3 separate regions of the Homo sapiens genome follow, and regions 1 and 3 are each linked to region 2. Evidence: fine-mapped expression QTL. A gene starts in region 2. Each other region holds a variant in brackets. All regions are shown on one strand. Distances are from middle to middle.

Region 1 (8,179 bases), 94 kb before region 2:
TACCTGAGGTCACCCAGCCAGGAAACAGTAGAGCCGGACTCCAGACCCATGCCACATGACCACAACAAGTGGGTGGAGGCTGCCTGCAGAACTGAACCTTTGGGAAGCATGATGACCCTTTCCACATCTACTTTTGTAAAAGCTTCATAGTCTGAGAAAATGCAAAGGGGCACTGTGCTTGGGTTCTGGAATCAGACTACCCTGGCTGAAACCCCTACTGGAAAGTTTACTGGTGGGGAGACCTCAAGCAAGGCACTTGCCTGTTCTCTGTGAACGTGAGCGGGCACCGACTTTGGCTGGCATTCAGTGTAGCATCAGAGCTGCCCAGGATGTAAGCAGAGCAGTCTGCACAAACAGGAATCCAAGCTGGACTTAGGAACGGGCTTCTGGAAAGGAAAAAACAAAACAGGCAATATTCTGCAAGCCTTTTGAATCGATGAGATCACTGGTGAAAAGTGTCTGCACAAAACCGTAATTAATCAATACCATGCCAATGTAGGGTGATACAGAATTGTATTCATTCCTTGATTTCTATATTTCAGTATTGTAGTAGTTTATAGAAATCTGGCCAAGGTAAATGTCGTATTAAATTTATAAGGACAAAAAGCTGGAACCGTTGACAAATATAATACAAATTGTCATCATTTAAACACACAAAAATTTACATTTGTTATGTATATTCAAGATCAATATGTCTGGGCATATTTATATTTACCTAGCAATTAGATTAGACCCTGGATATTGAACAAATAGCTCCATCAAAATTATAACATAAAACTTGAAAACACACACACATAAACAAATAAAAAAAAGAAATGCTAAAAGCTAACCATGACAACTACATGGACTACTCGATTCTGAACTAGATGCTTTGCTATAAAGGATGTCTTCGGGACTTTAGGGGTCAAGAAAACTTCCCCTTTGCACTCTGAAGGTTCTCTAAACAATCTACTGACAAAAGGCAGATTAATAGGGAAAATGGCTTACACATTTATTAGCATGCATAGGGGAAAAATCACAGAGTGATTGTCCGCTATCTCAATGGGGTACAGGTGGTTGTATCCTCTTCATCTTAGGGGAAAGAGAGATGGGGAAGTGTGGATGATTTTAGGGGACTAGTAAATTATTTTTAGGGAAATTCAATGGGCTTAAAGAACATACAGTGAGCTGGGACAAAGTCTGTTGAGCCCACAGAGCAGACATTGGTTTGTGACAAAAGTCTGTCCAGCTGTGTTAACAGACTTTAGTCTTTCTTCCTGTGATATGGGTACAATTAATGAACACTCAGGGAAGGGACCAGAGGTCTTTTTCTTTGGTAGGTCTGGATGTAGGCAGGTAAGGGAATGTCAGAGAACAACCTCATCCTGTGCTTATGAGACAGACAAAGAATGGAGAGACACGAGGGAGAGGGGAGGCCAGAGAGACCTTGAGACTTCTTCACAAAGCTTCATATTTTAGGGGTGTTGGTTTCTGAACCCCAACAGGTAAATCGTTGAAACTTGAATGGGGTGAGAAGATTAAACAGCAGTCACATGCCAGCATTAACCTAATGACCAGACCCCTGCCATTCCCAGCTCACAGAAATGTAAACTGCTTCGAGTAGGAAGCTGCAAACAAATGCATATTTTGTTTGAGCCTTGGAGGAACTCAGTAAGTACTTCTTGCCTTCCTCCTTCTTCCTTCTTAGAAGGACACCAATGGGAAACATTCCCCTGGGTTCATCTAACGTGGTCTGGTCTGGAAAGCATCAGAACCCTGTGAGAAGCATAAAGGACATTTTATTCTTGTCCCTGAGTAGGAGCGTATTTGAGAAGGTTTTGTTTCCTGCTGCCCTGGGGTTGTCTCAGAGGAGGGTCTGTAAACATCCATTCGCAGTACCTTGGATGTGATTCTCTTTCAAAGCATTCACGAGGAGCCTGGGGCCAGGTTCCTCCTGTGCTTGGCTGGCTTTACCCCAGTACAGCTCAGGGACACTGATAGTGCCAGTCTAGTCTCCTTTAGATTTACAGCTTTTAATTCTAGCACAGTGTAACCTCGAGGCAGCTACGGGGTATATCAGAGCCTCCCACAACCAGGAGTCTGTTTCTCCTGGGGTCTCTTTCTGCCATTCACTATCCATCTGTAGAAAAAAAAAAAAATAATCCCCACAGTCGCAGATCAGTGTAGATGGGGACGTAAGTGAAAATGCTTTGCAAACTCTGGGATGGGGAGGTTTATTGGGTCTCGTTCACAAACAGCCACTTTTCTCATCACAGAGGCCTCCCCAAAAAATCACCCAGGGGAATAAATTCCCACGCCAATCATGGAGAAAACCAAAGAACTATCCATCGCAAAGATTAAGGTCCTTTTTTTATACCCAGGCCCTATGAAATAAAAACAAGTCAACATGGCTGTTTGGGTGGCTAGAGAAAGAAAAAGACAAACATTACTTTAGCATTGTCCACACATTCAATTGTACTATGGAGTATTTACAGACCAGGCTCTTAAGAAAACAGGGATGAACAAACCAGACAAGTACTTGCCCTAGAAAAGCTTAACATCTGGCCGGGTACAGTGGCTCACGCCTGTAATCCCAGCACTTTGGGAGGCCAAGGCAGGTGGATCACCTGAGATCAGGAGTTTGAGACCAGCCTGGCCAACATGGTGAAACCACGTCTCTACTAAAAATACAAAAATTAGCCGGGCGTGGTGGCAGGTGCCTGTAATCCCAGCTACTCAGGAGGCTGAGGCAGGAGAATCACTTGAACTTGGGAGGTGGAGGTTGCAGTGAGCCAAGATTGTGCCATTGCACTCCAGCCTGGGTGAAAAGAGTGAAAATCCATCTAAAAAAAAAAAAGAGAAAGGAAAAAGAAAGAAAAATTTACCATCTGATAAAGGAGAGGCAGATAAATATATACTAGGCACAGAACACAGTATCTGAAGCCATTGCCTTGTAGTTCATTTCCTTCCATTTTTACTATGCTAGAGAAGAGATTTTATTACGCCCATTTTACTGATGAGGAAATTAGAGACCAGAGAAATCGATACATAAAATAATTTCTTTAAAAGCACCTAATGTAATAGATTGCTTTGCAGCTTTTAGTTCTCTGGTTCCTCTCTACTTCCTGCCTCACAGGTATTCCACTAGTGGCCAGGACCTGGGTTTGACTTCAGATGTCCTGCTTTTCTTATTTGCCCTGCTGGGGCGAAAAGGACTGCCAGACCTCTCTGGGATTCGGAGCAAACAAATTATCTTAGATGCTGATAGATGCTGATAGATGCATCATATGCTGATAGATGCTGATAGATGCATCATATGCTGATAGAATGATGCTGATAGAATGATTAATCAATTCTGCTTTCAAGTGAGTTGCCTCTAATGTGTAGGAAACAACTATATCTATTCAAATTCAAAATGAGACCTCCAGGATTCAAAAGACTCTATGTTTAGAATTTTAAACCTCTACTTATCTGTGCTTTCTGATTTTTCTGCTCTAGCCCTGTAATAGAGTAGTTAAGCTGACACTTTTCTTGCTGTGGGAGCGTAGCTAAGCTATTTCACTTCTCCGAGCCTCAGTTTCCTCATTTGTAAGCATGAGAGAGGGTGTCCATGAGCAACAGAACAAAGAATATGTATAAAGCCACCGGCACATAGTCTGCACCCCATATAGGTGGCTGTTGTCATTTATCACCATGAATCGTGTTGTCATTTATCACCATGAGTCGTGTGTAGGGTCATGGATTTCAAGCTAGAAACTTAAATTTAATTCCTAGTGGGAGACATCTAAAACTCTTGGAACCTGGATTTCAAATGTGAAAGGCAAGTGAGCAACAGCTTTCCTAGGGCAGCACTGGGTGTCAGGCTAAGGCAGAGTCACCTCTCAGTGAGAAAGTAGAAAGAACTGGTGCATTAACACTCCTGAGAAATGATTTGAATTTCTACTTTTTTCTTCTTTTTTAAAAAATAATTTAATTTAGAGACAGAGCCTTGCTATGTTGCCCAGACTTATCTCCAACTCCTAGCCTCAAGCAATCCCCCCATAATGGCTCCCAGAAGTGCTGGGATTACAGGCATGAGCCACTGCCCCAGCCTCGAATTTCTAAATAATGACATATATTAAAAAATAATAAAATCTCTATTAAACATGAGGTCCTGAGCCCTGTGTTATGGCCCAAGAATGTGGGGGTTGAGTGAGATTTGCCCTTTGCCAATAAGTATTTTTTAATTATAGTTAATGCACTTCCTACTATGAAGGCCGAGGACTGGGCACTCTTTACCACCCTCTCCACATCACTCCACATTCCCCAAATTCCCTCTCCCCCGTCATCCTAATATGATTATTTCTCAATTTTTAAAAATCAAATCTGGATATGGTTTCAATCATTATGTGGATATAATTCTTTCTTTTTAAAAGATGAATTATATACATTATGGACATTATGGATACTTTATTAAATCAGTCTATTCACATACTGTTTTTTCTCCAATCTTTTGCTATTGTAATGAATATCCAATATTTGATCCACGCTTTGAGCACATGTGGGAGTGCTTCTGGAAAATAAATTCCTAGAAGTGAATTTGCTTTAGTAGATGTTGCCAAATTGCCCTCTAACAAGGTTACATGAATTAATATTTCTATGAGACTTGAGAGTGCCTCTTCCTTACACCATTGTCAACACGGTGTTTTAGCAAACATTTTGATCTTTACCATTCACATAGGTGACTGTTTTCTATTGTAAGAGTTTTGGTAAGCATTACTATGTTAGTCGTGTGTCCTAAGGATTGCCTGGTTAAGAAAGGGGATAATGAAACAATTTAAAAATCAGGCACAAGCGGCAGGGTCTGGTGGCTCATGCCTGTAATCCCAGCACGGGCAGATCACTTGAGGCCAGGAGTTTGAGACCAGCCTGGTCAACATGGTGAAACCCCCGTCCCTGCTAAAAATGCAAAAATTAGCCAGGCATGGAGGCGGGTGCCTGTAATCCCAGCTATTGGAAAGGCTGAGGCATGAGAATTGCTTGAATCAGAGAGAAGGAGGTTGCACCAAGCCGAGATGGTGCCACTGCACTCCAGCCTGGGTGACAGAACAAGATTCTGTCTTTAAAAATAAAAATAAATAAA[T/A]ATCAGCACAAGCTACTGTGTCTGAAACAAAAAGGGGCTGAGAGTTTGAAAAGAGAAAAAAAAAATCTAAGGGACATTAAGATGGGATAGAAGCACAGGGAAGAAAGACGCTTTACAAAGACAAACTCACTGGAAAGGAGCTCATCTTCCAGGGTAAAGTTTCCAATGCTGATTAGATAACCATAGGGAGATAAAAATAAATGGAAATTCAGAACTGGAAAGAAACATCAGAACGCACAATGTAAACGTGGAGTGCCTGAAAATGTGTCACCTAACGGGACACCTAACGGGAAAAACAAAAACTCTAGTTCTCAGGACTGGGAGACGCCAACCTTCAGTGACTAAGAGAGGCAGGTGAACCAGCAAAGGAACTAGTTCCATCAGGGTGGGTATTCAGCAGGAACCTTGGAGCAATTGCAGAGGAATGAGTATGCTCAGAAGTTCTGTAGCTTTCATAATGTTCAATTCTTCATGTAAAACTACTAAAGATCATGACTTGACACTGTTGATACCATACAGTTGTGAACAACAGTTCTCAGAAAAGGAATTTGGAGTAAAGAATTTATTCCAGTTAACGGTTTGCAAACCAGGGAAACACAGCCTCCGGTGTAAAAGGAAGGTGTATTCCAGAGAAGAAAGGGAAGGCTCAGATTTTATAGCAAAAGTTCCCACCCAGGTTTCCAGTCAGGTCTGTTTGGGTAAATAAAGGATTCAAATTCACTTAGTTCTGATTGGTGGATACAGCTGAACCCTGATTAGCTGGTACAGCTGAGCCCCGATTGGTCATTACAGCTGAGCCCTGATTGGCTGAGGCAGATCTCAAAGATAAAAAGGTGTGGGTTTTCAAGGAACTCAGAAGATGCGTGTGACCCCCTAGTCAGTAAATGGCCACTTGGCCCTACTTTAAATTTAGAGCCAGTTAACCACTCAGGACCCATCTTGAAGGACGGGCTCTTTCAGGGTCACATTTGTTCTCATAGTATATTGAACTATAATCTTATATAGAATTAAGAGTTGCCTTCCCCAAACACAAGCAATTAATGTCTCCAAGCCTGTGGGTATAAGGAGTTTATAAAATCTACCTCATGTCTTTGTCATGCACATTGAACAAGATGACGATGTAAAATGTTTGGCCCATGACTGCACTTAGTAAATGTTGATTATCCTCAATTCATATGCAGGGATTACTATCCCCATTGTACTGATGAAGAAATTGAGGCTTGAGAAGTCACATGACTTTCCCAAGACTGTCAAAATATAACAGCAATAACCACAGCTGCCATTTTTGAGAACTGACTTTCCCAGGCACTATTTGAGCTACTCTATTATGTTATGTCATTTCATCTTCACAGCTGGTACTGCTGGCAAACATAGAGAAAACAAATATGAATTAAGATTTCACTAACTTATTTTGCCATACTCATAAGGCAAATTAATATTTTAATAAAACGTTGTGCAACGTGAGAATTATGTGTCCTTCATACATGGGGATAAGCCAGGGTCTACCTTGCTAAGTCACTGGGGCCTGTGTGCATCAGTTCACATCAGATCCCAGAGCTTCAAGCTCAATGCAACTTAAATTGACAGCCAGGGCATATTTTGATTTTGTGTCCACTCTAAGGAACAGAGGCTTGTTGGTCAACTGACAAGCATGAATCTGGGGGCCATGAGTTCATCTCAGAAAGTCTCCCGCTGTTTGAAATCCCCACGCTTGCTGTCTTGCCCTCACCCCTGTCTGTCGAAGCCTTCGTGGTAAGCAAGCTTGGACTTCATGAAAGTGAGTCTAACTCTGACATTGAAATAGTGGCTGTGTCTTGTCTCCCCAGTCTTCCCACACCTGGTGAAGGAGCTCAACGCAGGCCTTCATGTGATGATTCTGCTGCTCCTCTTCCTGGCCTTGGCCCTGGCTCTGGTCAGCATGGGCTTTGCCATTCTTAACATGATCCAGGTCCCGTACCGGGCAGTCAGCGGTCCTGGGGGCATCTGCCTATGGAATGTCCTGGCAGGTAAGAAGTCCCTTAGGGAGAGAAAATTATGTCCACACCATCATAGGGCTGGGCTCCAAGTAGTTGGGCAGAAGGTGTGAAGGAACTAAAATGCCCCACTGGAGCCTTGACCTTCCTGGGTCTAAGACCTTCTTGATGGGCATGGAATGAATGTCCTCTTTTTCTTTTTCTTTTTTTTTTTTTTTCTTTGAGACAGGGTCTCACTTTGTCACCCAGACTGAAGTGCAGTGGTGCGATCTCAGTTCACTGCAGCCTTGACCTCCTGGGCTCAAGTGATCTTCCCACCTCAGGCCCCCAAGTAGCTGGGAGTACAGGCGTGCACCACCATGCCCAGCTAATTTTTTGTATTTTTTATAGAGACAGGTTTCACCATGTTGCCCAGGCTAGTCTCAAACTCCTAAGCTCAAGGGATCCACCTGTCTTAGCCTCCCAAAGTGCTCAAGAATTTCCTCTTTAAGTTGCAGAGTCTGTCACAACAAAGAAGCATCTTATTAGAGTACGTGAATGGCTGAGGGCTTAGAGCAGTGAAGAGAGATCGAGGTGAAAGAAGAAGCCAGAAGACAGAGAGCTGGAAGTAGGGAGAGGTGGGGGCCCTGAGATGGGAAAGAGATGGAGCTGGTGCTGCAGCTAAGGCTGGGAGGAACTCCACAAATGACAGAAGAGAAGGGTAGTGTGAGCAAGAGGCCATTCGTGAAAGGCTCCTCCATTCAGGCTCTGGGTTGAGAAGGGGAAGTGAGTGCCATCTAGTTGCCAAGGTCTTTGGTGTTCCCCCCACACACACACTTGGGCATATTAATGCAGACGTGGCTCACTGGCTGTCTCAACTCTCCCTCCTCTCACCTCCCCAACACCTTCACTGCACCATGCCCTTAAACTAGATGCAACTTACTGAGCAACCACTAAGGGCTGGGCAGGGACCTGGAGATTTTGCATGCATTGCTTCATTTAAATCTCACCACATCCCTATGGGAGGTATTATTAGACCCACAATTACAGATGAAGAGCCTGAGGCTCAGAGAAGTTAAACAGTCGCACCACAATGAGTGGCAGAGGTGGTATTCCAACCTAGGTG
Region 2 (8,155 bases):
AGTTTGAGGCTGCAGTGAGCTATGAGTGAGCTATGAGCCACTGCACTCTAGCTGGGGCAACAAACCAAGACCCCATCTCCTAAAAAAAAAAAAAACGGGGACTGTCAACGGGTAAAACTGTTTGCTCACCTCCTGAAACTATAACCAATCAACATAATTCCATTGGTGCAGACTTAGAACAAAGCTCTCCTCGTTTTTACTTTTGTATCCGATGAATCAAATTAATCCATCAATGGGATGTGTGCCCTTTTTTTAACTTTGAAAATGTTTAACAGGAAAAGCTCTTTGTTACTGTTAATTTTAACATTTAAGAAATTTGACATGCAAAAATATTGTATATCTAAACTGGTTTACAGAGGGAATGGAAATGGGCATGCTTGTTTGTGGTATTTATTAGAATTAAAACCCGGTGAGTGTAGTGAGCAAACACAGGTTTCCCTGGTTATTCATGTTCAGAAGTCACTTCATCAGGAAAGATGGAATTAGAGGGTTGGAATTACAGGCTTATGAAGAAAACTGAAAACAGATTTATTCTGGGTGATACAGAGCCTCAGTCGGGCTTTGATAGAAGGATTCTGTCAAAGGCTTTTTATGGATAAAGGAACAGTGGAACTCCTGTGTTTACTAGTGTGTGGTATACAAAAAGCATAGCACAGGCCCTGGTTTCATGTGGCTTACCTAATCTGGTTGAGATGAAATTTTTTTTTTTGAGACAATCTCATTCTCTCACCCAGGCTGGAGTGCAGTAGCACGATCTCAACTGACTGCAACCTCTGCCTCCCAGGTTCAAGCGATTCTCATGCCTCAGCCTCCCAGGTAGCTAGGACTACAGGTGCACACCACCACGCCCAGCTAGTTTCTGTATTTTTAGTAGAGATGGGTTTTGCCATGTTGCCCAGGCTGGTCTCGAACTCCTGGCCTCAAGTGATCCACCTGTATAGGCCTCCCAAAGTGCTGGGATTACAGATGTGAGCCACCGTGCCTGGCTGAGATGAAATTTAATAGTTGTCACTGAATGTACATCTAGCTGCCAGGAACTTCACGAACCCTGTGTCTCCTAAAAATACAAAAACTAGCTGGGTGTGGTGGCATGTGCCTGTAGTCCCAGCTACTTGGGAGGCTGAGGCAGGAGAAATCACTTGAACCCGGGAGGCAGAGGTTGTAGTGAGCCAACATTGCACCACTGCACTCCAAAACCAACCTGGGTGACAGGGCGTGATTCCCTCTCAAAACAAAAAAAGGTACATTCAAATCATACTAACATTCCATTCCCAACCAGTTGGTTGTTAAACAAATCATGTTTATTTGACCCAAGTCTCACCACCGCTGTCTCAACTGCCCTGGTACAAGTCACCATCCTCTCTGCACTCCTAGATTACTCTCTTTCACTGGTCTCCCTGCCTTCTCCACTTGTTCTCCTGTTATCTGTATGACTAGAAAGATTATTTTAAAACATAAATCAGGCCGGGCCCAGTGGCTCATGCCTGTATTCTCAGAATTTTGGGAGGCCAAGGTGGGAGGATCACTTGAGGCCAGGAGCTCAAGATTAGCCTGGGCAACATAGTGAGACCTTATCTCTAAAAATTAAAAATAGGAGTTACATCGTGTCACTCCTTAGCAACTTAGTTTATGCAAGGCACAGTATTAAACCTCTACATAGATTATCTTGTTCTTAGTAATTTTTCTAAGGCAGTGTTCTCTCATCTTATAAATGAAGTGATGGGTTTTCAGCAAAATCCAAAAAATGTTAGTGCTTTTTTGTGCAGTACTCTAGGAGGACTGCAAGAGAAATACCACTGACCATGTTCGCAGGAAATTTACAATGAGGTTAGGTAAACTGGATATTAATGAGACTTGAAAGGCTGGGCACGGTGGCTCACTCCTATAATTCCAGCACTTTGGGAGGCCGAGGTAGGTGGACTGCTTGAGCCCAGGAGTTCAAGACCAGCCTGGGCAACATGGCAAGACCCCATCTCTACAAAAAATTAGCCAGGTGTGTTGGCACATGCCTGTAGTTCCAGCTACTTGGGAGGCTGATTGGGAGAATTGCTGGAGCCTGGGAGGCGGAAGTTATGGTGAGCTGTAATTGTGAAACTGCACTGCAGCCTGGGCAACAGAGTAAGACCCTGTCTCAAAAAAAATATATATATATAGAGAGAGATTTGCAAAAAAGTAAAATGATGCCATACTTTTTACTTATTCCTTATTTTAGAAAATAGAGTATTAGTTTTAATAAAGATTGTTTTTGTTAACATTTAATGAATTATTTTTTAATGAATTGATTTTTAAAATTCTGTTTTTGTTTTTTTTGAGACGGAGTCTTGCTCTCAACCAGGCTGCAGTGTAGTGGCATGATCTCGGCTCACTGCAAGCTCTGCCTCCTGGGTTCACCCCATTCTCCGGCCTCAGCCTCCCAAGTAACTGGGACTACAGGCGCCCGCCACAACGCCTGGCTAATTTTTTGTATTTTTAGTAGAGATGGGGTTTCACCATGTTAGCCAGGATGGTCTTGATCTCCTGACCTTGTGATCCGGCTGCCTCGGCCTCCCAAAGTGCTGGGATTACAGGCATGAGCCACTGCCTCCAGCCTAAAATTCTCAGTTTTAACTTATCAGATAAATATTAGCAGACTTAACCCACATAAACAAAAACTTTGGGATCCTCAATAATTTTTAGGAGTGTAAAGGGGTCTTGAGACCAAAACTGTCTGAAAACTGCTGGAGTAGGCTTGTTTCCTCCTGGCGGTCTCTTCTGGTTCTTTCAGTCATCACATATTTATTATATCTATTATGCCAGGCACCATTCTAGATTCTGGGGATACAGGTGAATAAGATGGGCAGGCTCTGATGCACGGAACTTATTTTCTAGTTGGCATGTGTATGACAGAGAGAGAAGGAGGAGGAGGGCAGGTGATTCAGTTATGAAAAAATGAACAAGATAATTTCAGATTACATAAATGTTGTGAAGAAAATTAAACAGGGGAAAGTACTTAGGAGTGGGGATCTAAGTGAAACTGAGGCTGGGAAGATGACTTGATCCGAGCCTGGTTGGCAAAGGGAAGCTCCTGCTTTTTCTCTGAACATTTCTGCCCTGGCTCACTCCTCTGGCAATGAGCTTCCTGTGGTTCCTTAAACATCCCAGGCAGGCTGCTTCTTCAGGGATCCTTCGGTGTAGAAAGCACTCCTAGTTAAATTTTCATGCCAGTCACTACAGTCCAGATCTCCTTGGAGAGGCCTCCTCCAATCACCTATCTCAAAGAACACCCCTCTCACTAGCCATCCCCTTACTGGGTTTCATTTTCCTTCCCAGCTCTTCTCTCTGCACAATATTGCTATGTATTTATGTGCTTGTCTGTCTCCTTCCAGAGATTTGGGATGATTGCTATAACCTCCAGATCATTAAATAGTGCCTGGGAAGTGGAGCGCTCAGTAAGTGTGCTGGGTAATAACTGTAAAATCAGATATAATGAAAAAAAGTTATTTGGTTTTAAAGAGATAAATAAGAAGGTTGGGCACGGTGGCTCACGCCTGTAATCCTAGCACTTTGGAAGACCGAGGCGGGCGGATTGTCTGAGCTCAGGAGTTCGAGACCAGCCTGGGCAACAAGGTGAAACCCCGGCGCTACTAAAATACAGAAAAACTAGCCGAGCGGCGGGCGCCTGTAGTCCCAGCTACTCGGAAGGCTGAGGCAGGAGAATTGCTTGAACCCAGGAGGCGGAGGTTTCAGTGAGCCGAGATCGCGCCACTGCATTCCAGCCTGGGCGACAGAGCGAGACTCCGTCACCAAAAAAAAAGAGAGAGATAAGCAAATGTTAAAAGCAGGTTACTACAAGATTAGCAGCCTAGTGCCGGGCGCGGTGGCTCACGCCTGTAATCTCAGCACTTTGGGAGGCCGAGTCGGGCGGATCACGAGGTTAGGAGATCGAGACCATCCTGGCTAACACGGTGAAACCCCATCTCTACCAAATATACAAAAAATTAGCTGGGCGTGGTGGCGGGCGCCTGTAGTCCCAGCTACTCGGGATGCTGAGGCAGGAGAATGGCGTGAACCCGGGAGGCGGAGCTTGCAGTGAGCCAAGATCGCGCCACTGCACTCCAGCCTGGGCGACAAAGCGAGACTCTGTCTCAAAAAAAAAAAATTAGCAGCCTGGCGCCTTGGCTCATTACTGTATTCCCAACACTTTGGGAGGCCGCGGCGGTAGAATCACTTGAGCTCAGTAAAACACCTGACTCAACTAAAAAAAAAAAAAAAAAAAAAAAAAAAAGCCCGTCGCGACTGCACGCACCTGTGGTCCTAGCTACTTGGGTGGCTGAAGTAGGGGGATTGTTTGAGCCCGGGAGGTCGAGCCCTGATCATGACACTGCACTCCGGCCAGGGCGACAGAACGAGACCCTGAGAAAAAAGAAAAGAAAGAAAAAAAAAGATTAGCATAGTGACTTTCTCTTTGATGTAACCATAAATATTTAAAGACATCAGTGCCGGGCACATTGGGAACCTCAACAAAGTTGTTTCCGTTATCCATCTCCGACCAGAATTCAGGAAGAACTTTGCCTGTCTTGTTCCCGCTATAACCAATGACTCAACAAATGTTTGTGGAGTGAGTGGGTGACCCTCTCCTTTTACCAACGGTAAACAGCCCGCGGAAAGAAAAAGTGACTTAGCCAAAGTCTCTCCAGGCATTTGGGGCAGAGTCGGGACTAGCATAGTAGTATCCTGACTCTCGCAGGAGGGCTCGCTCCACTGTAGTTATTAATTCTCCTCTCCACACAACCAGGTCTAATCCGGCCAAAGTCTTCAATTCTTAAGCTAAGAAAAAAGGAAAATACATGTAAACTCTGTTTTGCGATAGACAAGAAAACAGAAGAATTAAAAATCCTCCTTCCGGGGTGCACCAGAATCCTCCCATCGCTCGGTCCTGTCACGTGACCACGCCTACTACACCAGCCACGTGAGCTTCTGAGCCGGCTTCCGCGCAGGCGCAGTGGATCTCTCTTGCGCCATTCCAAACATGGCGGCTCCACTAGGGGGTATGTTTTCTGGGCAGCCACCCGGTCCCCCTCAGGCCCCGCCGGGCCTTCCGGGCCAAGCTTCGCTTCTTCAGGCAGCTCCAGGCGCTCCTAGACCTTCCAGCAGTACTTTGGTGGACGAGTTGGAGTCATCTTTCGAGGTAATATAAGACATGGGCGTCTTTGTCCCTAGCCTTCCCTTTTTTCTGAAACGTGAACTGCGCGTACGCGTATCTCCTCCAGGGATCCGAGCAACTAATTCACAAATGGGGAAACTGAGGCTTAAAGTAAGTCACTTGCTTTAGGCTTCCCCGTGGCCCGTATTCAATTCAGGTCTGCTGGCGGGGGCGCGTAAACTCGACGTTTGTGGAAACGTGAACCCGAAGTTTGCCTAAACCCCAAACTTGGAACCCTTCCAGATTCCCAGCCGGTCCTTAGTCTCATCCCCGAGCACCGTTTCTTGCATCCCTGCATGTTTAGTAAGAGGCTCAAGCCTTTTCGGAGCTGAGAGTTTCACTGCTGTATCCTGTATCCTTTCCGCTGGGCTTCACCTTTAAACGATCCTAAAGGGACTCTTAAGAGCGGAAATTGACTTAAGTTACCAGGCGCAGCTTGGTACTAAGAGCTGAGGAAGGAGGAATGCTGGAGGTTAGGGAGGGAGGGAGGCACAGGTGACCCAATCTCTCAGTTTTGCCCAAGGAGTTTACCTTGTAGCAAGAAAGGTGAACTGTATATTGAGGGAAGATAGAGAGGTGAAAATAAGTGCTCTGGTGATTTCCAGTAGTCTTTAAAGTGGAAGATGAGCTATTCCTGTGTAGTAATAAAGTAATGTACGTTCAAATTGGAGTTAACTTTTCCACATTTTAAATCCCAGTTTTGCCGGGCGCGGTGGCTCACGCCTGTAATCCCAGCACTTTGGGAGGCCGAGGCTGGCGGATCATGAGGTCAGGAGTTCGAGACCAGCCTGACCAACATGGTGAAACCCTGACTCTACTAAAAATACAAAAATTAGCCAGGCGTGGTGGCGTGCGCCTGTAATCCCAGGTACTCGAGAGGCTGAGGCAGGAGAATCGCTTGAACCTGGGATGCGGAGGTTGCAGTGAGCGGAGACCGCGCCATTGCACTCCAGCGTGGGTGACAAGAGCTCGACTCCGTCTCAAAAAAGTAAAATAAAATATAAATAAATAAAAATCCCAACTTTGTGACTTTTGTATTGTATCTAATAGCACAGTGGTAAATGAATATAATTTGCAAGCGATTATTCAGACTGCATGGACAAAATGCTTTTACCACACGGATGTACAAAGATTTAGAAATAAATGATTTGAGATGGAGTCTCACTCTCTCGCCCAGGCTGGAGTACAGTGGCGCAATTTCGGCTTACTGCAACCTCCGCCTCCCGGGTTCAAGCGATTTTCCTGCCTCAGCCTCCCGAGTTGCTGGGATTACAGGCACCTGCCACCATGCTATTTTTTTTATTTTTTAGTAGAGACAGGGCTTCACTATCTTGGCCAGGCTGGTCTCGAACTCCTGACCTCGTGATCCACCCGCCTCGGCCTCCCAAAGTGCTGGGATTACAGGCGTGAGCCACTGCGCCTAGCCAGAAATAAATGATTTAAAGGACAGACCGTTTAGGAGGAGGAGGAGGAGACACCTTTGAGGTGGTGCTAAGTGGTAAAGGAAGGGGCTGGTGAACTTTAGAGCAGCATCTAGCATTGTGCTTGAGGGGAGCTGGCTCTCAGTCATGGGCACTTGCTGAAAGACTGGCCCTGTACAAGTCTTAGCCAAAGTTGACTCCCAGCACCCTGCTGCTTAAAAACGTACAGTGGCTGCTTGTTGCCCTTGAGATAAGATCAAGATGTTTAGTGTGGTCTCCCAGGCTTTGCATGTTGCGTTCTCTCCTTCAGACTCGTTTCCTTACTGCAGCCACACAAGACTTTCCCACGTGTACCATTTGTTTTCTCTTTGGGCTTCCAGGCCGCTCCTCAGCTCACTGCATCACTTCCTCAGTGGACCCTTCCCTGGCCTTCTTTTTAATACTTACCATTAAATTCGGCTCCATGAAGTCAGAGACTACCTGTTTTGTACCCCCACCCCTCACATTGTGTAACCTGTAGTGCTAATACAGTGGTAGTAGATAGCAAGTGCTAGATGAATATTTGTCAGACATTGAAGGAATCTGTAGTGTGGAGCCTGTAGTGTAGTTGGCTTGTGCACAGAACTCCTTGCCTGATTCACATATATGTCTGTAGGTGCCCTTGAGAGAGAACTCCCTCTGGGACTTGATTATCCATACAGAGAATACAGAGAAAACCAGTCCCTGCCTTCAGGAAGCTTGTAATAAACGGCAGGCAGTTGCCTTGTTGTAGGATCACTGCTCTGATAGAAGAAACCTGGGGTACTGTGGGAGCACATATAGGTGTGGACATCAAAGAAGGCTTCCCAGAGAGCAGGAAAGCCAAAGAAGCATTTTGACTTAGCCAGGTGAAGGGGAGTGGGAGTGGTGCGAGCTGGATCCTCTCTGCTGCTGGGTGATCACGATCTGTCTAGTCTTGTCTCACGATTCAATTCAAAGGCCACATTTTCTTTGGAACTTTTCCTGTTTCCTTCCTTGTGTTCTGTGTGGACCTCAATTTTCACAGCCTCCAGTGGCACATAGCAGCACCTACTTACCTGCTTCTCATTCCTATTGGGGTGCCACTCCTTGAGGTCTCTGTCTGCTCATTCTAGCTGCTTAGCACATGCTCTTTGATGGAAGGAATTTATTGAGCTCATGCACTCTTGATTTTGGAGGGAACGTTGGAGACCATCTAGTTCCATTTCCTCCATTCATAGGTAGAGAAACTGAGGCTCAGTGAGGGCAAGTTACTTGCTGAAAGCCAGCCGTTGGGTTTGTGGAAATGAGGACAAGCACTTACTTTCCAGGCAAAGGCTCTGTTTTAGCCATGCTTTTAAAAAGCTGTTCTCTTTCTAGGCAGATGCGGTGGCTCACGCCTGTAATCCCAGCACTTTGGGAGGCCAAGGTGGCTGGATCACTTGAGGTCACGAGTTCGAGACCATCCTGGGCAACATGGTGAAACCCCATCTCTAACTAAAAATACAAAAATTAGTGGTCTCTGGTGGCACACGCCTTAATCCCAGCTACTTGG
Region 3 (8,179 bases), 25 kb after region 2:
ATGAGGGATACATAAAAACTACACGAGATGACATTAGTTAAGTCACAAGTGTATTGTCCTGTGAACTATTTTTAAAAATACTATTTTTGTTTTTAAGATGTAGCCTTGCTCTGTCACCCAAGCTGGAGTACGGTGGTGCGATCTCAGCTCACTGCAACCTCCGCCTCCTGGGTTCAAGTGATTCTCCTACCTCGGCCTCCTGAGTAGCTGGGATTACAGGCATCTGCCACCAAGCCCAGCTAATTTTTGTATTTTTAATAGAGTTGGAGTTTCACCACGTTGGCCAGGCTGGTCTTGAAATCCTGACCTCAAGTGATCCACCCACCTCGGCCTCCCAAAGTGCTGGGATTACAGGTGTGAGCCATTGCACCCAGCCAAAAATACTATTTTTTAAGAGCCTTTAGGATTTTGTGATAGTAGATAATTGAATGTGAATATGCTCATTGTGAAAAATTCCAAAAATATGTACAGAAATAGTTAAGAAGTGGAAGATTCTTACTCTTCTCCCTCCCATCACCTAGATAGAGCTATTCTTAATACTGACACACATTTATTCTAGAAAATTTGGAAAATACAAAATCCCATAAAAAATAAAAATCACACATAATCCGCCCAGCCATAGATATAAACAAGTGGGTTTTTTTTTTCCAATGAATATTTTTCTGAGCGTACACCAGCCCTTAAATAACCTGTGGTTACCTTTAAGAAAAACGAAACCAATGGAATTGTATAATGCATTAAAACCATTAGAACCAATTTACCTTCATGGAAGGGGTCAAATATCCCGGGTGAGGATTGAAAGAGAAAGACCGATTCCGGTGGGACATGGCACTGGGGAATGCTGCGTAGTGAAATCTTCTCTCTTCCTAGAAAACCAATACAACTGAGTCTAAATGAGCCTAACCACACAGCACTGGGTTTGACTTGAAGGAAGATGGCTGTGAGGGCAGAATAGAGAAGGAAAGTCCAGGGGAGGAAGGGGAAGTCAGTGGGAATAAAGCTGCCAGGCACTGAAGCTTTTGAGGAAGCACCTTTGCTTTTTTTATGTCCCCAGCCCCTCTTGTAAAGAAAAGGGCAAGCTGATGCCTTAGGAAATTGAAAATTCAACTGTTCTTAGCATGTGAAGGTAACCTAATGCAGAAAGTTAGTAATTAAGGCAAAGAAAGAAAACCCCCAGGTATGCAAAGGATTTTGCCGCCTTTCTTCCTCTGTCTTGTTTGACATTTGTGTTGCCTAACATATACAAACATAGGGAGAGTAATGAAATCCATCCCCACTTTACCTATAATAACTATATGGCCGATCTTGTTTGTGTGTATCATTTTCCACTTTTTTCTCTCCTGCTGTATTATTACTAAATTCCAGTTATTACATAATTTTTCTCTGTAAAAACATCAGTATGTATTTCTTAGAAATAAGGATTACTTTAAAAAAAAAAAAACCCATGATACCTTTGTTCACACGTAGCAAATGAGCAATAATTCCATATCAATGTCACCTAATTTTCAAAGCACAGAGAGATACAGAAGTGAGGCAGGTGAGCAGGAGCAGAAATGACCAGCAGGCCTTGGTTGGATACTGAATCAGAGGGAGCTGGGTTCTTTCCAAGGGGCTTAGGGAGTGGCTTTGCTAAGTAGAAAACAGGTGGTCATTTTTACAAAAAGAAGATCAACAATAAAAACACTAATTCTACTACAATTCAAACCTAAGCCATTATAGATTTTCTCAAATTCTGTAAGTTAAAAAACCAATATTAACATGGGGCAAATGCTGTTGGACTTGGGAGTAAAGTGATTTTTTTTTGCCTCCTATTTTCCTGTATTAATTTTTTAGTGAGTATGTCTTCTTTAATAATAGAAAAGAAAGGAGTTTTTCTTTGAGACAGTCTTGCTCTGTCGCCCAGACTGGAGTGCAGTGGCGCTATGCTGGCTCACTGCAACCTCTGTCTCTCGGGTTCAAGTGATTCTCCTGCCTCAGCCTTCCTAGAAGCTGGAATTACAGATGCCCACAACCACACCCAGCTAATTTTTGTATTTTTAGTAGAGACAGGGTTTCAACATGGCTAGGCTGGTCCCGAACTCCTGACCTCAAGTGATCCACCCGCCTCCGCCTCCCAAAGTGCTGGGATTACAGGCTTGAGCCACCGCGCACGGCAAGAAAGGATTCTTTGTAAGATATTAGGGCACCTAGAGAAATGCTGGGTGCAAGTGAACGCCCCTCCCGGGGGAGCCCGCAGTGCCCGGCCAGGTGCGTGGGTGAGGCGCCCCCTGACAGCCTCACCGTGAGCTGCTTGATGATGTCCTCTCTCTCCTTCAGGCGGGTCTGCAGGCGGCCAATGAGCTGAAGGTCCTCGGGCCTGGACGCTCCCTTCCCTGGCTTCTCTCCGGAATCTTTCAGTCTGTTCCAAGCAGGCATGCAGTCAAGTCCCCCTTACAGCAATTACTCAACAAAGAGGGAGAACAAGTGCACACGATGGGAATGCCATCCTGTGTTCAGCCCGGCCAGGGAGGCCCAGATAGCAGCAGCGGCTTGCCCAGGGCCCCCTGGGGAGATGGCTTGCCGAACCCAGGATTCCAGCTCTGTCAGGTCCCCTGAGGCTGCAGGGCCAGGAAGCAAAGGCCCCTGTGTGCACATAGATGCTGCACTCAGCGGGGCTTCAAGAGCCAGGGATGCTGCTGGGAGAACAGACCAGGGCAGGAAAATGTCCCGTAGGTTCTCTTAATGCTCTGGCGCCATCTGCTGGCGGACATAGAGCGCGGCCAGTGGCCGGTACCTATGGCCTTTTTTTTCTTTTTTGGAGACGGAGTCTCCCTCTGTCGCCCAGGCTGCAGTGCAATGGCGCGGTCTCGGCTCTCTGCAACCTCCGCCTCCCTGGTTCAAGCGATTCTTGTGCCTCACAGCCTCCTGAGCAGCTGGTACTACAGGCGCGCGCCACCGTGCCAGGGAAATTTTTGTATTTTTAGAGGAGACGGGGTTTCACTATGTTGGCCAGGCTGGTCTGGAATTCCTGACCTCGTGATCCGCCCTCCTGGGCCTCCCAAAGTGCTGGGATTACAGGCGTGGGCCACCGCGCCCGGCCCCCACTGCTTTTTCAGCGTGAAGCCAGAGAAGAGTAACTGGGTGGTGAGGAGAGGAGGGCTGGGGGTGCAGATAATCTACTGACTGGAGTTGATAAGAGCCCAGGGCTTTGGGTGAGATGACCCGGCTCTAATACTGGCTCTTCTTTTTTCTAGATATGTGACCTTGGGCATCATTTCACCTGTGTGTGGGCCCCAGTTCCCTCTCCTTTAAAATGGGCATGAAACTGGGTGGTTGTGAGAATTCAATGTGATAATGGGAGCCTGGCATATAGTAAGTGCCCGTTAGACTGTAACTGGTAAAACCTTTCCTGCTGGCTTTTGGATGATTTGCTTTGTATTGGAGA[C/CAG]TGGAGAAGTTTTTAAGAGCTCAGGCTAAAGGTCAGACAGGTGACATTTAAACTGAATTAATGCTGCCTGACCTTGGGCAAGTGGCTTCACCTGTTTGGACCTGGCTTGCTGCCATCACATCCTAAATGGTCTTGCTAGTCACCCCCTCCCCCTGTTTCTTCTCAGCAGTCAGAAGTGACCCTGTGAAAAGGCAAGTCAGGCCATGTCACTCCTGCCCAGTGCCTTGTGAAGGCTTCCCAGGGCACTCTGAACACATCCAAACTCCTTCCCATCAGGGCAGGAGTCCCTTCACCCAGCTCCTCTCCTCCCACTCACCCTCCCTCTCACTGATGCCTCAGGAGTGCCCTCACCTCCTTGTACTTAAACATCACCTCCTCACAGAGGCCTTGTTTTGCCCACCCTTGCCACTCCCAATCCTGTCTTCCAGCACTTTCACCGCCTGGTATGATGTTAACTGTTTGCTTTTTTTTTTTTTTTTTTTTTTTTTTTTTGAGACAGGGTCTATTTTTTTTGTTTTGTTTTGTTTTGTTTTGAGACAGAGTTTCTCTCTCTGTAGCCCAGGCTGGAGTGCAGGGGTGCAATCACAGATCACTGCAACCTCAACCTCCTGAGCTCAGACGATCCTCCCGCCTCAGCCTTCCAAGTAGCTGGGACTATAGGCACACACCACCATGCCCAGCAATTTTTTTTTTGTATTTTTTGTAGAGACGGAGTTTCACAATGTTGCCCAGGCTGGTCTCGAACTCCTGGGCTCAAGCAGTCCACCCTGGGCTCAAGCCTCAGCCATGCAAAGTGCTAGGATTACAGGCATGAGCCACCAAGCACAGCCTGTTTGCTTATTTCTTATCCGAATTCTCAGCAGAATTTGTGAGCCTATGAGAGCATTGTCTTTGTTTTGTTCCCTGCTATAACTCCAGAGCCTAAAGCAGTGCTGGGCATACAATGGGTCCTTAACAATTATTTGTTGAATGAATAAATGCAATATGTTTGCATGAGGGACCAGTGGGAATAACAATTCTAATTGAGCAGCCCTGATCCTTCTGATTTCTTCGAAGTGTGAGGGTTAAACCAATGCTCATCCTCACAAATTCCCACTGCCCTGCAGAAAAGGGGAACATAGCCTCATAAAATGAAGGGAGACTGATGAGCCCCTGGCTAGTTCCCCCCACCACACCCCGCCTCCTGCCCTGAACTTGCTCTGTTGCTGAAGCTGGAGTGCAGGGTCCTGATCTCCGTTCACTGAAAGCTCTGCCTCCTGGGCTCAAGTGATCCTCCTGCCTCAGCCTCCAGAGTAGCTGGGATTACAGGCGTGTGCCACCACACCTGTAATTTTGTATTTTCAGTAGAGATGGGGTTTCGCCATGTTGGCCAGGCTGGTCTCCATCTCCTGAGCTCAAGTGATCCACCTGCCTCAGCCTCCCAAAGTGCTGGATTCCAGGCATGAGCCACCGTGCCTGGCCAGAACCCAGGACTTTCAATTTGAAAACCAGGAAATCCCAGGGTCATTGGGGTGAGTTGGCCACCCTACTGAATGGTACATTTGCAAGACCCTCCCTGGGGCCCGAGGCCTCACTTACTCGGCTTCCAGGGCAGCCAGCCGGGCCTGGAGCTGGGCCTGGGCACTACTGAAATCTGCCACCATGGCCTGCATCTCCTTCCGGTGTTCCTGGCGCAGTGTCTCCACCTCCCTGGCCCGCTGGGCTTGCTGAGTCTCCTCCAGGAACCTGTGGTGGATGAAAGCACAGCCAGGCTTGCCCAGCTCCAGGGATGGCACCCCTTGGGCTCTGGGGTTTATTTCCCTCATCGCTGCCCAGTTTGGGAGATCTGGGTGGGGAGAAATTGTGATCTAAGGACACCTGTGGGAAGAAGAGCTGAAGTCTCTTGAGTTGTGGAGTCCAGGACAAACCCCCACTATGGGACCCCTTCTCAGCACCCTCCCATCTCAGAAGGAGAAACCTGAGCATGGGGACAGACTTCAGGTGGAAGTGATGGAGAGCAGCCCTGCAGGGGAGCCCCAGAAAACACACTCTTCACTTGGGACAGGCGGGGAGGCAAGAGGCTGAGATTCTCTATCAGTATGGCCTGAACGCTGGGACTCTGAGACCTGGGAGACCAGGTCTTCCCTAACAACTACACTGCAGTGGAAAGCCTCCCTGAACTTTTTTTTTTTTTTGAGACGGAGTCTTGCTCTTGTTGCTCAGGGTGGAGTGCAATGGCACGATCTCGGCTCACTGCAACCTTCACCTCCCGGGTTCAAGCAGTTCTCCTGCCTCAGCCTCCCAAGTGGCTGGGATTACAGGCGCCCAGCACCAGGCCCAGCCAATTTTTTGTATTTTTAGTAAAGACGGGGGGTTTCACCATGTTGGCCAGGCTAGTCTCGAACTCCTGACCTCGGGTGATCCATGCGCTTCAGCCTCCCAAAGTGCTGGGATTACACGCGTGAGCCACCACACCTGGCCACTCCCTGAATCTTTATCCCTCACCTTTATCAAAAGAAGTGGTTATGAAAATTAAATTGGGCTGGGTGCGGTGGCTCACATCTGTAATCCCAGCACTTTGGGAGGCCAAGGCGGGAGGATCACGAGGACAGGAGTTCGAGACCAGCCTGACCAACATGGTGAAACCTCGTCTCTACTAAAAATACAAAAAAAAAAAAAAAAAATTAGCTGGGCATGGTGGTGTCCGCCTGTAATCCCAGCTACTCAGGAGGCTGAGGCAGAAGAATCACTTGAACCTGGGAGGTGGAGGTTGCAGTGAGCCGAGATGGCACCACTGCACTCCAGCCTGGGCAAAAGAGCAAGACTGTCTCAAAAAAAAAAAAAAGAAAATAAATGAACAAGCACAGTCAAGGCTCAAAGCAATTTTGGGCCAACACAACAGGGTTCAGTGTACACAGCTGACAAATATTAAAAAAAAGGAATCCTCCAGACATTAAAATGACAAAAAAAATTATGAGCAATTTTATGATTGGCATTAGGACATTCAAAAACTTGGATGAAATAGACGAATTCTTTGAAAGATACAAACTGCTAAAGCTCACTTAAGAAATAGATAATATGAAATATCCTGTGTCTTTAAAGAAATTGAATTTGTATTAAAAGCTTTCCAACAAGAGGAAGAAAGGCTCTGAGTTCAGGATTGATGATAGGTTTTTCACTTCTACAATTAACCAAGCGTTTCATTCATGCTAGGGACATGCCAAGCCTCCTGCACACATTCCATTGCACTCTACAACAGCCCTGACAGGCCAGGTTTTTTGTTTTGTTTGTTTTGTTTTTTGAGACAGATTGTGGCTCTGCCGCCCAGGCTGAAGTGCAGTGGCCCGATCTCAACTCAGTGCAACCTCCACCTCCCAGGCTCAAGCAATCCCCCCTCACCAACCTCCCGAGTAGCCGGGACTGCAGGCATGCACCACCACGCTTGGCCAATTTTTCTATTTTTAGTAGAGACGGGGTTTCACTATGTTGCCCAGGCTGGTCTTGGACTCCTGACCTCAAGTGATGTGCCTGCCTCAGCCTCCCAAAGTACTGGTATTACAGGCGTGAGCTACCACGCCAGCCGAGGCTGGAGTCTTATCCCCATTTTACAGAGGACTCAGTCTGGGAGAGGTCAGCTAACTCACCCAACCTCACACAGCTAATTAAGAGCGCACAGCTAGTTAAGAAGACACCGCATGGTCTGAACTATTCCACTACACCGTCTCCGTAAGGTTGGATTTGATGACACTTTTGGTCCAATTCTCAGTCTCATAAATGCCCTGATTTGCAGGGAAACAAACAGGACTCCCTCTTTTTTTTTTTTTTTTTTTTTTTTTTTTTTTTTTTGAGACGGAGTCTTGCATTGTCGCCCAGGCTGGAGTGCAATGGCGCGATCTTGGCTCACTGCAACCTGGTCCTCCCGAGTTCACGCGATTTTCCTGCCTCAGCCTCCCGAATAACTGGGATTACAGGCACACACCACCACGCCCGGCCTTTTTTTTTTTTTTTTTTTTTTTTTTTTGTATTTTTAGTGGAGACAGGGTTTCATCATGTTGTCCAGGCTGGTCTCGAATTCCTGACCTCGTGATGCGCCCGCCTCTGCCAACCAAAGTGCTGGGATTACAGGCGTGAGCCACCGCGCCCAGCCAGACTCCCTCTTTTATTTCAAGGCACTTCCTCTGCGGTTTTGAGATCCAGAATTTCTGGAGCTCTGGGACTTTTCATGGGTCAGAGGAGTAACATCTGTGAAATGCTGGCGCATTCAGTGTCTAGTGTCTTGTGGGGCAGGATGCCGAGGCAGTGACCCATTTCAGGTCTCAGGCTCAGCCAGCCGCAGTAGGGGGAGGGGGGGTGGCGGGGTAGGGGGTGAGGGTGGCGCGGTGGCGGGGCGCGCCGGGTCACCCACCTGCGCTGGTCTCGGAGCTTCTGCGCCTCCTGCTGATGCTGCTCCACCTCCGCGCGCAGCCGCCGCACCGCGTCCTGGAGCTGCGCGTTCTCCTCCCAGAGCCCGCATCCCTCGCCGGAACCCTGCCCAGCAGCGCCCGGTGGGGAGCCGGCCTGGCCCGGGCCGCCCCGCTCCTGAGGAAGGCAACCAGGAGAGGTGTTTTCAGGAGGCGCAGGGGCAGACAAGGCAGAAAGGGCCAGAGATGTGCTGCGGCGAGATGGAGACCCACTGGCACCCCGCCCAGGCTGGAGCCTGTGGCAGGCTCCTGAGTTCCCTGCAGGGACTCCCATCTAGTCTCTTAAAAAATTTCCTCCTTTGGGAGTTGGCCAAAT

Which allele goes with the higher level. Alleles are on the strand shown, and positions count from the first base shown. SD is a standard deviation of normalised expression in the study named. Not every link is listed here.
For the expression in naive CD8 T cells of the gene that starts at base 4,995 in region 2, allele C in region 3 goes with a lower level than allele CAG (moderate effect, 0.64 SD a copy in Schmiedel 2018).

The links. PIP is the estimated chance that this variant, and not a neighbour inherited with it, causes the effect.
Region 1: its variant is fine-mapped to the expression of MED28 in whole blood (TOPMed, PIP above 0.99).
Region 3: its variant is fine-mapped to the expression of MED28 in naive CD8 T cells (Schmiedel 2018, PIP 0.95). The same link has a PIP of 0.9 or more in Th2 cells.

Annotation. Positions count from the first base shown.
Region 1 is chr4:17,515,937-17,524,115 of GRCh38, forward strand. CLRN2 (clarin 2) reads left to right here. Exons shown (of 3, transcript NM_001079827.2): 2 at 6,928-7,107. Among named protein-coding and RNA genes, the nearest start is that of CLRN2, 4.9 kb to the left of the region's middle. The variant T/A (reference allele first, on the strand shown) is at 5,102.
Region 2 is chr4:17,609,647-17,617,801 of GRCh38, forward strand. MED28 (mediator complex subunit 28) reads left to right here and starts at 4,995. Exons shown (of 4, transcript NM_025205.5): 1 at 4,995-5,167. The coding sequence starts at 5,009. MED28-DT (MED28 divergent transcript) reads right to left here and starts at 4,934. Exons shown (of 3, transcript NR_186331.1): 1 at 4,496-4,934; 2 at 4,286-4,392. RefSeq lists enhancers at 4,340-5,539, 4,645-4,934, 5,035-5,144.
Region 3 is chr4:17,634,248-17,642,426 of GRCh38, forward strand. It overlaps FAM184B (family with sequence similarity 184 member B), which reads right to left. Exons shown (of 18, transcript NM_015688.2): 13 at 7,809-7,981; 14 at 5,003-5,149; 15 at 2,281-2,398; 16 at 762-866. Among named protein-coding and RNA genes, the nearest start is that of MED28, 24 kb to the left of the region's middle. RefSeq lists a silencer at 2,541-2,630. The variant C/CAG (reference allele first, on the strand shown) is at 3,425.